Homo sapiens: one gene and its partner. The protein of the gene in region 1 interacts with the protein of each later gene in a pairwise test. Each region holds a gene or a part of one and is shown on either strand. Other genes may lie near its edges.

Region 1 (8,860 bases):
TTGAACTCCTGGCCTCAAGTGATCTGCCGGCCTTGGGCACCCATTGTGCTGGGATTACATGCATGAGCCACTGTGACCAGCTCTAATTTTTGTATTTTTTGTAAACATGGGGTTTCGTCACGTTGCCCAGGCTGGTCTCGAACTCTTGGGCTCAAACAATCTGCCCACCTTGGCCTTGCAAAACGCTGGGATTATAGGTGTGAGCCACTGTGCTCAGCCTTTTTTTTTTTTTTTTTACGAGAAAAGAGGTCTCTTACTTTGTCATCCAAGCGAGAGTGCAGTGGCATGATCATGGCTCACTGCAGCCTCAACCTCTCAAGCTCAAGCTATCCTCCCTCCTCAGCCTCCCAAGTAGCTGGGACTATAGGCCACGCCACCATGCCCAGCTAATTAAAAAAAATTTTTTTTTCTTTTTCTGAAACTGCTCTGAAAAAATTTAAATGGCATTGGAGTCTTTTCATAAAAGGCACACCTACCCTGGAAAACATCTGGGCTTTGTGTTTTGTGGGGAATACAACTTTCTCTCTCTTTTGGGGATAAAGTGCTATTAATTTTTTAAAAATAAAATCATCAATTGTATCCAAACTTTTAAAGTAACAGACATTGAGTTCAGCTAAGCAGTCTTTTATAATTCACAGATGGAATGAAAACTAAGGGAGGGACGAGGTGACCCATGGAGGTTGTATAAAAAGGACAGAGCCTTTGGGCTCTTCAGACTATAAGGGTCCAGGAGGAGAGGAGAAACCACCTCAGAAGCATACAAGGTTAAAGCATACAAGGTGGGTGTAGGGTCAGGGGAGCCAAAGTAAGTGTGCAATGAAAAGTTATTAACAAAAGTCAAAAAAAGAAAATGCAGTCTGGCCATCCAATTCCTAAACCATGTACAGAGTACACAGAAAGAGCACAGGAGGCTTCCTGCAGCAGGGCAGTACAGCTCTCTGCCCTTCAGGAAAACTGAGATTCCTCCACCTGGGAAACAGCAAGGGACAATTAGGGAAAGCTCTCCAGAGGAGGAGGCATCTCAGGTGGGCCAAAGAAGAAAAATTTCCACAGGACAGAAAAGGCAGAGAAGAGGCCAGGCATGGTGGCTCACGTCTGTAATCCGAACACTTTGGGAGGCCAAGGCAGGCGGATCACCTGAGGTCAGGAGTTGGAGACCAGCCTGGCCAACATGGCAAAACCCCGCCTCTACTAAAAATACAAAAATTAGCCGGGTTTGGTGGCACACGTCTGTAATCCCAGCTACTCAGGAGGCTGAGGCAGGAGAATCACTTGAACCCGGGAGGCAGAGGTTGCAGTGAGCCGAGATTGCCCCACTGCACTTCAGCCTGGGGGACAGGGCGAGACTCCATCTCAAAACAAACAAACAAAAGGCTGGGCGTGGTGTGGCTCACACCTGTCATCCCAGCACTTTGGGAGGCCAAGGAGGGCAAATCACAAGGTCAGGAGTTCGAGATCAGCCTGGCCAACATGGTGAAACCCTGTCTCTACTAAAAATACAAAAAATTAGCCGGGCGTGGTGGCGCACACCTGTAGTCCCAGCTACTCGAGAGGCTGAGGCAGGAGAATTGCTTGAACCCGGAGGCAGAGGTTGCAGTGAGCCGAGATCACACCACTGCACTCCAGCCTGGGTGACAGAGTGAGATTCCGTCTCAAAAAAAAAAAAAAAAAAAGAAATTTATGTTCTTTGTAAAATAATTCAGACAATGCAGTAAACAGAAGAAATTCAGCCTCCCTCTCCCTTTGCCCTTTGCTGAGTCCCCACGGTGCAGCAAGATCCTTCCAGATCTTCATGGTTGGGATCATCTTCCACCAGGTCCTGAGGTTTTTCACTCCCTATCAGTAGACACACCACACTGCCCAGTTTGCAAGTAGCTCCATTGGATAACACAGAAAGGCTCTGTCCTGCACCATGTCTCAGCACTGGGTGCATCGTCCCACAGGAATGACACCTAGACACCCAACATACAACTGCAGGGCCCTAAACTATGGGCCAGCCCACCCCTAAATGCCCTTCTCTCTACCCTTGCCCATATCAAATATTACAAGCCTCTCACACATATTTACCAGTCATACTGGGAAAAAAATAGTCCTTTATCATTTTAACATTTCACAAGTAACTAAAACAAATAATAAACATGCTAACACTTGGGAATGGTCTATTTCTTTTCTTTTTTTTTTTTTTTGAGACGGAGTTTCATTCTTGTTGCCCAGGCTGGAATGCAGTGGCGCAATCTCGGCTCACTGCAACCTCCGCCTCCCGGGTTCAAGCAATTCTCCTGCTTCAGCCTCCTGAGTAGCTGGGATTACAGGCATGTGCTACCACGCCCAGCTAATTTTGTATTTTTAGTAGAGACAGGGTATTGCCATGTGGGTCAGGCTGGTCTCCAACTCCTGACCTCAAGTTATCCGCCCTCCTTGGCCTCCCGAAGTGCTGGAATTATAGGAGTGAGCCACCAAGCCTGGCCTCTTTCTAGGCTCACTGCAACCTCCGCCTCCTGGGTTCAAGTGATTCTCCTGCCTCAGCCTCCCAAGTAACTGGGATTACAGGCATGTGCCACCACGCCCCGCTAGTTTTTGTATTTTTAGCAGAGACGGAGTTTCACTATGTTGGCCAGGCTGGTCTCGAACTACTAATCTCAGGTGATCCACCCGCCTCGGCCTCCCAAAGTTCTAGGATTACAGGCGTGAGCCACTACATCCAGCCTCTTTTTTGTTTTTTTGAAACAGGGTCTTGCTCTGTCACCCAGGCTGGAATGCAGTGGCACAATCTCGGCTCACTGCAACCTCCGCATCCTGTGTTCAAGCAACTCTCCTGCCTCAGCCTCCCAAGTAGCTGGGATTACAGGCGCCCACCACTACACCCAGCTAATTTTTTTTTTTTTTTTTAGTAGAGACAGGGTTTCACCATGTTGGCCAGGCTAGTCTCAAACTCCTGGCCTCAAGTGATCCACCTGCCTTGGCCTCCCAAAGTGCTGGGATTACAGGTGTGAGCCACCGTGACTGGCCTCTATTTCTTATTTATACATACACACACACACCCCCCTGTGAAATGACTCTGGGCTCTTCCAATAATGTTGCCACTCTCCCGCTCCCCTTCCCAATGGAAGTGGAGGGATGCAGGGGGTGTTAGTGATGCATTGTAATCATCCCGGAGAGCAGGACACCTCTCATAAGAGGTTTACCCAAGGGGGGCTGTGGAAAGGGCTAGAAATTGCTCCTGGAGGACGTGGAAAGCCACATAAGGTTTTTGACAGATTAGCGAAAGGCTGCCTACACTGTCATCTTCAGAAAGAGTGGTATGACACTAAATCAAGAAGGGCTGAGAGGGTGAGCCCAGGGGATCCCATAGGCTCCACAGCCTCTGGCCATCCTCTCCTATACAGGTCCTAAGTCCCCTGCAGGGGGCCCTCAGCTCCTCTACCCTACCCACTGTCCTGTATGTTATCTTAATGCTTATTAAAGGCCTCAGCTGAATTTCCCTGGTGAACTGAAAGAATTCTGCTGCTCCTGGACACATCTGCACCAAGCCACCACTGGGTCACATTCTCCAAAACTCCTTTTGGAGACAGAAGGCACTTAAACCATACATATTTTGCTTGATAGTTCCTAATTAAAAAAATAGAGAGAGATAAAGAGAAAGAGAGAGAGAGAGAACTACAACTAAGCCTTGAAGACAAAATGATTGAACAGAATCAGAGCTAGAATGGAACACCTCAGGCTTGGAGTCCCATGACAACCTTGCTGGGGACCACGAGTGGCCCTCAGTCCTTCTCAGGCTCATGCCACCTATGTGAAATAAGGGTGGTGACACCCACCTCCTTGAGTGCAGAGCAGTGCAGACAACAGGGCAAATGGTGTATTGATCTGCTATCTGTGTACATAAATTTATTCATTTAAGCCATGGGTATTGTTTGAATATGTGAAAACCATGTCAGGTGCTAGGGATAAGAGACAGATTCCAACCCAGTGGAAAAGACAGATAAGCCAGTGGTTCCTCACACTGTGCCAAGTGCTGGGATGGGGTCACGAAGGAGGCCATAAGAAACCCCAGAGGGGCCACAGAGCTCACTGGGAGGGCCAGAGGCTAACACCTGAGGGATGAGAGGTGTGAGCCAGAAGGTGATGCATACACAGCAATAATTACTGACGGAGGGGAGGAATGGTAAGGGAGGGGAGGAGAGAAAGGAGGAAAGAAAAGAGAAAAGAAAAGAGAGAGAAAAGGAAAAGAAAAGGAAGAGAAGAGAGGGAAGAGAAGAGGAGGCAAAGCCCAAGAAACAGGATCACTGAATGAAAAATGAACTCTAAGACCCCCTTCTGTCTCTCACACTTGTTGACTAAGTCATAGCCACAAGGAGTAGGGGAGGCTCTGAGGTGAGCAGGAGACCAGCCACTGTCACCGCCAGTACCTTTACTAGCAGAGCCAGGATTACCTTTGTTATTCTTCTTACAAACAGCTCTAGTGAACTCACCTGAAGTAATCGCAGGACGCAGCCAGCAGGATGCGATGGGCCTCGATGTGTCTGCCCTCCACCACCAGCACAACATCGAAGAGGATTCCGCTGTCCCGGAGAGCCAGCAGCCCTCGGAGCAGAGCCTGGGAGTGCTGTGCGCTGCGGTAGGTGTTGTTCACGCAGTGTGGGTGTGAGGGCTGTGCAGGCAACTTGCAGAGCTGGGTGAACTCCTGCTCCTCTGCCATCCTGACAGCCACAAGATCCCTTACAACTGTGGCCTGACAGTTGGCAAAACAGGGGACAGGGGTGAGCAGGCAGGCATCAGCCCCACCACACACAGACTGGCCAGCTCTGTTGCTCCCCTTGCTCCTGTGCCTCCCTCAGGCTCACCTGTTTTCCCTCTATTTCCAAATCCCCTAATTCCTTCTCCCCTCCCACCTCTAGTCCAACTTCCTGATGGCCTTCTTCCTGATGACCTGTGTGCCATCATGCCCAAGACTCTTCATCTCATTGTATCTTCTTCAGCGGCAAAGTCAAACAGAAGGGTTTTGGGAAACAGACTGACCTGGGTTGGAGCCCAACTCCACAGGGACTTACAACATGACCAAACTGAGCCTCGAGCTCCCCAATTTTAAAAAGAGAGATAAAAGTACCTACCCCATTGGGGTATTCTAAAATTGGTAAAACAATGAACATGAAGCATAAGCACACACCAGGTTCTCAAGAGCTCTTCCTCCCTCCCATTGAATGAACAAAATTGGGTTCTTCCTCATAGTAATGGATGCATAAAAATGGCAAGACCTGAGTAGTGGTCAGGAGACACACAGCCAGGAGTCTGGGAGGTGGGTGCCAAGGGGGTGGCATTTCCAGGGCCTACTTTCCTTTACTGAAATTCTGAGAGTCAAGCACAGTAACTGTGATTGAACCTGATGCATTTAAATTCATCTGCATTGCCTTTTAAATTAAAGATTATCTTCTAATAATTGAGTCAGTACGTTCAAAAACCGCAAACTGATTTGAATTGGAGCCTCTAAAACCTAATCAGTAAAATGAACCTACTGCAAATGCACTTTTGCCATGGAGCAACCAAAAGTGACTGTGGATAGCCAGCTGTTCAGGTCAGGGAGTGGCCAGTCCCACACTGTGAGGCATGGCCAAGCTGCAGGCTCTGTAGGCACAGCACAGTCAGCTACAAGATGTGAACATCTGTCTTCTCCACCTCACTTCATCCTACTTTCCTCTCCCCAAAATATGTTTATTCTCCAATTACCTCCAGTCATGCATCACTTAATGTTGGGGATACATTCTGAGACTTATATCGCTGGAGGCAATTTCCTCAGTGTGTGAACATCAAAGGGTACACCTACACAAACCTAGGTGGTAGAGACTACTACACATCTAGGCCATAAGGTACAGCCAATTGCTCCTAAGCTACATACTTGTACAGCATGTTACTGTAGTTCTGAATGAAAAAAACACACTGTTTTTCCTCTCCTCTTATACCACAACAACAAACACAGGAGACTTCTGTGACCAAATGTGTGAGGGTTTTTCCCCATTAACAAGCAAGCAATCAATTCTGCCACAGATACCAGCTGGGTGTCTTCTAATTCAGCAGTCCCCAATCTTTTTGGCACTAGGGACCACTTTCTTGGAAGACAATTTTTCCACGGGGTCGGGGAATGGTTTCGGGATCAAACTGTTCCACCTCAGATTATCAGGCATTAGCTAGATTCTCTTTCGGAGCACACAATCTGGACCCCTCACATGCATGGTTCACAACAGGGTTTGTGCTCCTATGAGAATCTGATGCCACCTCTGATCTGACAGGAGGTGGAGCTCAGGTGGTAATGCTGGATCACCCTCCACTCACCTCCTGTTGTGCCACCTGGTTCCTAACCAGCCACAGACTGATACAGGTCTGAGGCCTGGGGGTTGCGGACCCCTGCTCTAATTCAACTCTAACACTACCTGGAGACAGTGTCTGATCCCACAGGTTGAGGGCTGAGTCTCCCAGGTTGTTTCACCTGTGCTTCTGACCAATAGGCTATAAATTGGGTTCCCAAGATCCCCTTCTTGGGTTCAACTAATTTGTTAGAGCGACTCACAGAACTCAGGAAAATACTCATGTCTACTGGTTTGTTATAAAGGGTATTGCAAAGGATACAGATGAAGAGATGCATGGGGCCAGACATGTGGGAAGTGGTGCAGAGCTTCCAGGCCCTCTCCAGGAACATCACTCTTTAGGAGCCTCCATGTGTTCAACTATCCAGAAGTTTTCCAAACCCAGTCATTCAGAATTTTTATGGAAGCTTCATTATGTAGGCATGACTGATTAAATCACTGGCCATTGGTGATGAACTTAATCTTCAGCCTGTCTCCCCTCTCCGGAGGTTGAGAGGTGAGGCTGAAAGTCCCAACCCTCTTATGCCTGCCTTGGCCTTTCCTGTCACCAGCCCCCATCCTGAAGCTACCTAGGGGCTGCTGGCCAGCATACAAAAAGGCATCACTCTGGAAAGTCCAAAGATTTTAGAAGTTGTATGCCAAGAAATGAGACAAGACCAAATATATATTTCACAATATCACAGTACTGAATACTATAGGCAACTGTAACACAATGGAATTTGTGTATCTAAACACAGACAAGGTACAGTAAAAATATGGGACCACCATCCTTCATGTGGTCTGGTCTGTCATTGACGGAAACATCACTGTGTGGCACATGATTATATATCTTTAAAAGAAAAAATGAAAAATATATGCTGATATAAAACTTGCCAAAAAGAAGAGGTCTCTCTCTTCACTACTGAGGCTCAGGGCCACCCCCAACCCCATCCCCTGGATGCTCTACTGCTTCCCATCAAACACACTCAGTTATCTGTGCCTGCCCCTGAGTCTGCCTCCAGGACCTGGGACCTCTATCCAGCCACCCACCCATTCCTTTCCCCCTCCTGGGCTGGCTCATCTTTCTCACCAAGGCCCCAGAGATGGCCACAGCCAAGGTGTATACCCCATGACCACCTCTCACTTAGGATTCTCTTGCCTGGAAACTCTGCTCTATGATAATTCTCCCTTTTCTGACCTCTCTCTTTCATCCCACACACCCTGCTCGAGCCCATCCTTCTTTCCCAGTGGTTCACATTCCCAGTTTCACCTACAGCTCAGTGCCTAATCTAGCTAGTAGCCCTCCAACTTGTCTAATTTTACTATCAAAGCTACCATTTCCATCTTGGAAACCTCACTGTTTTAATATTTTTCCTTTCTAACCCATGTGCCCTATGAACCTACTAGTTCTGATTCCTTCACCTCTCCTCCATCTCAGACAGCCACCCTCCACTCCTCCAGGGCCACCACTCTGGGTCAGACCACAGCAGTGATGCCCCTACCAGTTTCCCTACCTCTTGTCTCATCCTCCCCAGGCTGCTCTCCTTCAAGCCTTACCTACTCAGCCCCATCAGCAGTCCTTAGTCCAAAAGGGATACCTGTCATCCCCTGAACACCTTTAGTCACCCATCTAGGCCATTCTGTCTCTCATAGTCCCATATTGGTCAAGGTCTAGCTCGATTACTTCTCCCTCTATCATTGTACAGAGAACATGACAAATATGCCCCACCATTCAAACCTGCCCTTTTTTTTTTTTTTAGACGGAGTCTCGCTCTGTCACCCAGGCTAGAGTGCAGTGGTGTGATCTTGGCTCACTGCAACCTCTGCCTCTCAGGTTCAAGTGATTCTCCTGCCTCAGCCTCCCCAGTAGCTGGGATTACAGGCGTGCACCACCACACCCAGCTAATTTTCTTGCATTTTTAGCAGAAATGGGGTTTCACCATGTTGGTCAGGCTGGTCTCGCATTCCTGACCTCAGGTGATCCATCTGCCTTGACCTCCCAAAGTGCTGGGATTACAGGCATGAGCCACCGCGCCCGGCCCAAACCTGCCTATTTACCCACGACAAGGAGATTCCGGCTTCTTGAGGGGTGAGGTTTTATCTCACAAACATCTCAAAAGCCCCCATGGCTGGCTGTACCACTTGCTAATGACAGACTCTGGGCACTTGTCTCATATACCCACGCCTCAGCTTTCTCATCACCACCATGACCACCGCAGAGTCAAGAGGGCCTCCTTCTCTGAGGGTGACCTCCACAACTACCCCAATAGACATCAAGCCCCCAGGTGGATCCTCACCTTCCGTGAGCATAGTAGTGCCTCTGCTCTCTTGGGAAGGGATAAATGGCAGCTACTCCCTAAACCCATACTGCAAAAACAAGTACGGTAAAACAGAAAGACATCTTCCATGGGCAGGCAAAGCACATTTACCAAGTCCAATTTAAGAAACTTAGCTAGGGGCTAAGGGGGATATGCTGAAAAATGAATCAATTCTCTGCTGGGAAGGAGCACAGCACAGGGTGC
Region 2 (8,860 bases), on another chromosome or scaffold:
TAATCCCAAAAGATTCCAAATACGGTGGCTATGGGCTCAGAGACCAGTGACTAAGGCTTTGGGCTTCTGCATGAAGTATCTAAAAAGTGCAACCGGACCACACACGGGGTTGCTCACCAAGAGCTCCTCGCTCAGAGGGAACCAACTTGAGAGCATCGTGACCTGCTCCATGATCTGCACTGAGTTCACCCAACGGAAGGCAGGAGAGTCAAGGCCAGTGTTTTAAGGCAGGGCTATCACGACCTCTCAGTCCATGGAGATGGCAACCCCAGGATCACGGGCTCACTAGTGTAATACAGGCGGCCAGGGCTGCACCTTCAGAGGGCAAGCTAGCCGGCCCCAGTACTACTAGTGCATCACTCATGCTCTCATACCTCCACAACCACGTGAAGCTCAAGTGAGGGAGAGGCCGTAATGGCATCTGCAAAGTCAAGTATGACATAAAGGAAAGGAACTGGTAGTAGTCACAGGAGCCTATAGCTTGGGAAAAGGCTCCAGGCTGTGTCATAATGCACAGGCTTTATATGTCTGGGGTCAAAGGATGAGGAACTGAACTGCTGGGTGATGGGGTGATCTTCACAGTATTTGCAGGCAGGAGAAGAGCACTTCTCTGGTCTTTGGCTGCTGAATGCCATGGGCAGGGGAGCACACAGGGTGAGATTTAGAAAAAGAACCACTGCCATCTACCACTGGCCATCAGCAGAGGTAGGCCCTGGGTGGCCAGGAGAGTCAGAACTGGGATGGGCCAGTCCAAGCCCCATTGCTGGAAACTCTACACATCACACATAGGGCCTCACGTAGGGCCTAAATAGGAGGCCCTGCTTAGGATGAAACACTCACTAGGAGAGTGAGCAGTTGAGGCCACGGCAGCACCAAGGAGCATGTTGTCTGTGCCCAGGTTGGCCCCACCTCTGTGTAGCCAGAGTGAGCTCCATTGTCCAGGTTTGATATCAAGACCAGAGTCAAGGTTGGTCCAGGTTTCTGCAGCACTGACAGAATACACTCCTTTCGGTACCTGGCCTGCATGTCCCTCCGAGCATGAGGACAGCCAGGACAGAGTCACTGTGAGCCTGAGAGATAGTTTGTCCCTGCCAGTCAGCACTGGCCAGGGAAGCCCAGGCAGAAGCCTGCCAAGCATGTCTTATAGAAACCAAAACAGATACCTTTATTGCATACTTTGCACATATGAAGAATATATCTGTATAAAATTCTAAAGACTTTTGTCCAGACATTATATTTTTCTTTTCACCTTTATTCCTTTTACCATGCCCTGTAAACACCCCAGTAGGAGAAAAAAAGGAAACAAGTTAGTTCAGAACATGTTGTGCCTCAATTTATCTGTAGGTGACCTCCACTTGGGCACCAGCACAGAGCCACCACTGACAAGGTTCAAAGCTTTCACAGGGGAGAAGGAGCTGAGCCACCAACAGATCTGGCCCAGGCGTGCAGCCCAATTTGTGAGCGAGTCTGCTAACTGGTAACATGTGAGCTGTTCATTTGGAGTCACACCTTAATCTCACTGTCCTGAACTCTTAGCTATGCCTAACCAGCAGCTGGCTAAGGACAGCCAGTTGGTCAATGAGCCTGATTCTCTGAATTTATTAACTCTGTACCCTCCAGAGTAGCATCTGTAAAAATTCAACCTAGCTTTTCATTTTCAATTTACTTGTTTTTGCCTTAGATGTAAGAACAGTGGAGCTCTTGGGAATGACCAAGACCTCAAAGGGCCAAAGCTCAAGTGCCCACAGAGACGATCTCTGAGCAGTATGGAAAATGCTCAGGAAAACCCATCTGCCCCAGCAGCTGAAATTAACAACCTCACTGCTTAAGTGTAAATAGGCTTGTTGGTCAAAAGGGGCATCACTGCAGGTTTGAAGTCCACCTGGGAGCCCTACACACAGGTGCCCAAACTTACCAAAACGCACTTCCCGGGCTCGAGACTCCAGAGAGAACTCTCAGTGTTGATCTTGTGGGTGAGCTTCCCTTCCATGAGGACGCGCTCCCCATTTTCCTCCAGCATGGCCACACGAATGGAGCTGCTGCTAAGGGCCACTGAGACCTGGGGACACAGCAGAAGAAAATCATCTCTCCTATCAGGGTGACCACTGGTGTGCTGTACGGTGGGAGTGGTGATGGTTTCCAAGGTACCTGACTGCACACTACAGCGCTGTCATCAGGCTCACCAGGCATCTCAGTGAAGAAAACCATACCAGCCTAATTTATACCTAGAGCAACCTGAAGATGTCAGCTCATTTAGTAAATCCACCAGAAAATCTTTCTCAGCATAACTGGTAACGTAAAATGCTGTGGTGGAAGCTGCTGTGACCCAATCTTCTTCTCCCTTCTCCAGTTAACGGAGACCAATTGTCACAGCAAAAAGTGAGCAGAGGAGACAAGTGGTATTTCTTCCTTGCCTCCCCTTGTGGCTACCTGGGAGACGCAGGAGCCCAGCCCTGGACCACAGCAACCAAGAAAGCTGAGGGGGCTGCACACCCTGAATTGCTCACCCCAGGACTGCTGTACAAGAGACAAGCACCACCTCTTCCTTCCATGAGCCACTGCACTGCCTGGTTGACTATAGCCTGGTCTTCATCCAAGAGTATGAGACCAACTCCTTTGGTTTTGGAAGGCAGCTATGCTCACCAATATACCACCAACACTCGCACATGGTTTTGCATTTTGTCTTGGTTCTTTACAAAACCAAGCCTCTAAAAGCCTCAGCTCACCCTCCTCCCTCTGAGCCTGTCCTAGGCAGAGACTGGCCCCATGGCCTTCCCCACCGCCCTAGGAACACCTATCCCTGCCCCACCACTTGTCCGTCTCCAGAACTGGACTGGCAGCTGTGGGAGTAGGGTTCCTTTTACTTCATATCATGTATTCCAGCCAGCAGTCTCCAAAGCAGGGTATGCATACCCCAGGAGGTTCACAGGTCAGTAATTAGAAGAGGAAATAAAACAGAACTTCCATTTACATTTTGTATCTGTATAATGTATGCATTAAGAAGACACTGGGATCAAGTACTTAAAACTTTTTTCTAATAGGTATGTGGAATAAAAATAATTTGGAAGCTACTCTCCATGTCATTTGGTAGATGGCTCATTAAACGCTTATAAAATGATTGGAAAAAAAGACAACCCAAACTGATAGATTTTCCAAACTGGAGTTTAGTATTTCCAATGAAATACAATACCATAACCTAACTGTAGTTTAAATATTCGTAAATAAAAAATGGAAATGGGAGAAATGATGTGCAGGAGTCACCGCTGTCAGTTTTTCTTCTTTTTCTTTAAGAGACACGGCCTCACTGCATTGCCCAGGCTGGAGTGCAGTGGCGTGATCCCAGCTCACTGCTGCATCAAACTCCTGGGCTGAAGCAATCCCTCCACCTCAGCCTCCCGAGTAACTGGGACTACAGGTACGTGCCACCATGCCTGGCTAATTTTATTTTTATTTTTTGTAGAGACAGGGGTCTTGCTGTTGCCCAGGCTGGTCTCGAACTCTTGGCCCCAAGTGATCCTACTGCCTCAGCCTCCCAAAGTGCTGGGATGACACATGTGAGCCACCACATCCAGCCCATCAGATAGTTACTAAATGAAAGATAGTTCCTGAGCCATGCAGTGAGGGGAGAAGGTGGCAGAAGGCTGCCCACTGGGGGACACAGCGAAGATATTCTGCTAACCACAGGCGGCTCTGCCAGGTTCACATGCAGACTCCAAGGAAGCATCCTCTCATGAGATCGCAGTTCCACTTGCATGACCTTTCATAGGGGAATTTACCACGGAAAAGGGTATTTACTTGGCTAGTCCTATTGAACAATAGGCAACTGAGCTTCACTCCCTACCTTCTAACACCATGAGGAACGTGAGCAAATGGAACAACAGATCCACTCACTCCTGAAATGATCCAGACACATGTTGGGCCAAATCATGTCTAACCATGAACTTGTGTGCAATGGAAACACGACACAGAGGGCCCAAGGCTCCTCAGCCTGCCTTCACAAGAACAAGCTCACTTAACAAATATAATTCTCCCACCCAGCTCTATATAACATAATAATTTCCAAATTTGGGGAAGCTTCTCACACTGCCTACCCAGGGGAATGAACCAAATCATCAAGGGAGAAAACCAGACAAGAAATGCTTCCAGAGGTCCCAGGTGAAGATGTCACACTGGGAACAGACAGCCATCTCTCTGACCTCTTGTGAACTGCAGGCATAATAGGCATGAAGAGAAAAACCCCAGACAGTGAAAATGGGGGAAGAGGGAGGCCAGGAACAGATGAGATGTCAACAAATCTGCAGAAGACAAAAGGAGGAGGGGCACAGGAGACAAATCCTATAGGGTAGGAGACATCCAGAAGCCACAGCTACATAGGCTCCAGTTGGGAGTCGGCAGGTATGCAGAGCAGGAGCAAGGCCAGGGGCACATGTGGGAACTGCTGTGGCCCTGGACGCCCCACTGAAAGGGACAGGAATCCCTCTGTTTGCTACAGAAGAATGGAGGACCTTGCTCCAAAGACACTGACCAGCAGTCTGAGGACCTAGTGTGGATGCCTGTGTGTCAAGTGAAGTCCTACTCACTCAAGCATTAGGATGCCAAGACCCTATGTCCTATAAAGCAAAGCTGACTGGTCAATCCACTCAGCTGTCGGTGGTGGTGGGACGAGCAGGTTTCAGACACACAGTAGACAAACCCATCAATACGGTCCCACACTCAAGAGAATGGGAGAAAAATATTTTTGTATTAAAAAAAAAAAAAAGACCGGGCATGGTGGCTCACACCTGTAATCTCAGCACTTTAGGAGGCCGAGGCAGGCAGATCACCTAAGGTTGACAGTTCGAGACCAGCCTGACCAACATGGAGAAACCCCGTCTCTACCAAAAATACAAAATTAGCCAGGCGTGGTGTTGTATGCCTGTAACCCCAGCTACTCCGGAGGCTGAGGCAGGAGAATCGCTTGAACCTGGGAGGCAGAGGTTGCGGTGAGCCGAGACTGCACCATTGCAACAGGAGCCTGAGCAACAGGAGTGAAATTCTGTCTCAAAAAAAAAAAAAAAAAAAACTAGAGAACTGAAGACTGCATCTTGTGAGAAAAAACAGGCAGATGAAAACAAGTTAAAAAAAAATACAGAGCTAATTTGGAAAAAAGATATCCAAAAATATTTCTATTTTATGTCTTCACAGAGATCTGAGAAGACACTATATCCATATAACCAGAATAAAATATGAAAATAGAACAATTAGGCCAAAAAGAAAGAACACAAGAATTTAAAATACAGTAGCTAAAATTAAACTTCAATAAAGAGGCTGGAAGATAAAGTCAAAGAAATCAAGGTAGAAACACAGATCAATTCAGGCAATCAATTTGGCATTCCAGAAATTATGACAGTAATAAGATAATTTTCCAGAGCCAAAGGAAAATATGCCTCCAGATTGAAAAGTCCCACCAAGAGCTAAGCAGAATGAATGAAAGACTCATGAAATTTTATGACACTGGGTGTTTTTAAAAAGGTCCTGAAAGTTCCAAGGAGGAGAAAAAGCTTACTCACAAAGAGATGGAATAGACTTCCAGAATCAATTACACAGAGTGTAAGAAGATATCCCTTTCAATCCTAACAAGGGAAAATTATTTTTAAGCTAGAATTCTACATACACCCAAACTGAGAAATAAGTGAAAAGTTAAAATAAATGCATTTTAAGATATACAACAATTCTACATTATATATCACTTTGAGAAAAACAAAATGAGGATGAAAACTGAAAAAGAGGAATATCCAACTCAAGTCCAAAAACTGCATTTAATCTATAAACGCAGGAAGAAAATACCAGGAGTGTAGCTATACAGCAGAACAGGAAATAACCAGTCTAGAGTGGAGTTCAGGCAGAAAGAGATTTCTAGACAATACTCAGTATTAATGAATCTGGGTAATTCTGAGGTTATGATGAAGTATACTATTTTTGATAACAAGATAAAAAAGAAGGGCAGCAAGAACCCTCAGGAAAACAAAAAAGATTTAAGAGATTCCTGATCCAAAGGATGTCAGTGAAAATGGTGGTTACTACAGGCCTCCAAAAAGCTCTCCTCCATAAAAGCAACCAAAAAGTTGGCAAAAATTGTCAGTATCAACTTCTTATGGATTTTGGAAACTAACCAAAGGTTTGCAGGAACCCAGGGAGCATTAATTCAAGGAAAACAACCACATCTCAGTAAGAACAGTGAGCTCTGTGATATTTTAATTTGGCCTAGACCCATCCCCACTCTCCAGGCTCTCAGCAGGCCGCATTCCTGGTACAGCGTAGCAGCCATCGCTGGAGAAAACAGTGCTCTTAGAGCTCTTTCAAAGCTTCATTCTCAAAGAACTGTCATCATTTGACCTGTCTGATGGTTCCCTGTAAGACCTCATTTGCAAGACTGACTGACTGTTTCTGGCTAAACTCAGAAAAGCCTTCCTCCCAACCCAGGAGTGTCTGTTGAAAATACGGCAAGTGTTTTAACTTTGCAGCCTCCTGAGGTGGCAGATAACAACTGAGGCAAACCAAAGGCAAAGGTGGGAAATAAAATGTCCGTGGGGGCTTTGAAAAGCTTTGACATTTTCCCAGGAATCTAGAAAGACACATGAATGTACAGAGCTTCACTGCACACTCAGGAAAAACCTAAGAAGGCCTTAAGCTCTCACCTCTGGCTGACTTTGACTCAACATCAGCAGGAAATAAAGGCTAAGGCAGTTTTTAACTGTTAGGCCAAGCAATGAAGGTATGCTCCAACAGGTAGATGAAGCCCCTCGACAAAAACAGGTGTTTACTGATCCCAGGAGTTTAAGGAAATCGCCATCTAATAATTACTTGGCCACTAAGTTCACCAAGTACAGATTTCACTGGTCAGACACAATAAAGAATACAAACTTTACAGAATTAGTTCAGAAAAGTCATTAAACAAGAACAACTATATCACGTACCAATAGCAACCATGGGAAGAAAGGAGCATCTGATTTCCTGAGTCACCCCATTGTGTTATTTAAAAATCCATTTCTCAATAACAGCAAAAAAAAAAAAATTAGACAAAGAAACAACAAAGTATGGCCCATACATAGGAAAAAGAAAGCAATCAATAAAATCTGTCCCTGAGGAAGCCCACATATGAAGAACTTAGCAGAAAACAGTCTCTAAATCACCTATTTTAAATATGCTCAAAGAGCTAAGAAAACTATGCAAAAATTACTAAAGGAAAGTATGGGAATAACGTCTTTTAAGTAGAGAATATCAATAAATATCAGTATCACTATTGATACTGATAACGAGATAGAAATTATTATTACCATTTTTTTAAGAATCAAATACAAATTCTGGAGTTCAAAAGTAAAAGGGGGAAAAGATAAGCGTTCATGAAAGGGGCTCAAAACCACTTTTTAGCATTTAGAAGAAAGAACAAGCAAACTTGAAGACAGGTCAATTGAGATTACCCAAACTGCGAAACAGGAGGAAAAAACAGTGAAGAAAAATAAACAGAGTCACAGAACCTGAGGGACACTATTAAGCATACCAACATACAGAAGAGAAAAGAAGAAAGAATATTTGAAAGAATAATGGCTAAAAACTTTCCAAATTTGACATGAAAAAAATTACACCCAAGAAGCTCAATGAATTCCAAGTAAAATAAACTAAAAGGGAGCCAGCCTCACCTAGATGTCATAATCAAACTGTCAAAAAAGCCAAGTCAATAATGAAGGAACAGAACAAAAACAAGGAATAAAATCTTCAGAACTTACTATAAAGCTACAGTAATCAAAACAGTGTGGTACTGGCATAAGGACAGGCATCTATACAGATCAATGGAACAGAATTAAAAGTCTAAAAACAGCCAGGCACAGTGGCTCACGCCTGTAATCCCAGCACTTTGGGAGGCCGAGGTGGGTGGATCACGAGGTCAGAAGATCAAGACCATCCTGGCTAACATGGTGAAACCCCGTCTCTACTAAAAATACAAAAAAAATTATCCGGGTGTGGTGGCGGGTGCCTGTAGTCCCAGCTACTTGGGAGGCTGAGGCAGGAGAATGGTGTGAACCCAGGAGGTGGAGCTTGCAGTGAGTGGAGATCCTGCCACTGCACTCCAGCCTGGGGGACAGAGCAAGACTCTGTCTCAAAAAAAAAAAAGTCTAGTAACAGGCCAGGCATGGTGGCTCACACCTGTAATCCCAGCACTCTGGGAGGCCGAGGCAGGCAGATCATGAGGTCAAGAGATCGACATTATCCTGGCCAACAGGGGGTAACCATATTTCTACTAAAAATACACAAGTTAGCTAGGTATGGTGGTGCGTGCCTGTAGTTCCAGCTACTCGGGAGGCTGAGGCAGGAAATCGCTTGAACCCAGGAGGCAGAAGTTGCAGTGAGCCAAGATCGCGTCACTGCACTCCAGCCTGGCAACAGAGCGAGACTCTATCTCAAAATAAAGTCTAGTAACAAACTCATATATTTATGATCAATTGATTTTAGACAAGAGTACCAAGACAATTCAATGGGAAAAGAATAGTATTTTCAAGTAATTGTACCATGAGAACTGAGTATTCACATGCAAAAGAATGAAACTGGTCTAATAATTCAAAATGAAGTTGGACAACTATTTCATAGCATATAATAAATTTTTTAAACTCAAAATGGATCAAAAACCTAAATGCAAGAGTTAAAATCTGTGATCTTGGGTTAGGCAACGGGTTTTAGATATAACACCACAAGCAGCCAAAGCAAAAAAAAAAAATATTGACTTCATCAAAATTTAAAACTTTTATGCTTCAAAGAGTAGTATCAAGAAAGTGAAGACAACCCATAAAATGGGAGAAAATATCTGCAAATAATGTATCTGACA

Evidence for each region.
Region 2: the proteins of KLHL22 (region 1) and NUDCD3 interact in binary tests that used the Homo sapiens proteins (3 or more experiments, as listed by UniProt).

What each region holds. Positions count from the first base shown.
Region 1 is NC_000022.11:20,484,513-20,493,372, forward strand, and holds part of KLHL22 (kelch-like protein 22), read right to left. Parts: exon of another isoform or gene 8,747-8,860; coding exon of another isoform or gene 8,636-8,746; intron 8,630-8,635; exon of another isoform or gene 5,319-8,629; coding exon of another isoform or gene 5,256-5,318; intron 4,733-5,255; coding exon of another isoform or gene 4,700-4,732; coding exon 4,473-4,699; intron 1-4,472. UniProt on the Homo sapiens protein: Substrate-specific adapter of a BCR (BTB-CUL3-RBX1) E3 ubiquitin ligase complex required for chromosome alignment and localization of PLK1 at kinetochores.
Region 2 is NC_000007.14:44,402,525-44,411,384, forward strand, and holds part of NUDCD3 (nudC domain-containing protein 3), read right to left. Parts: intron 2,060-8,860; coding exon 1,916-2,059; intron 1-1,915.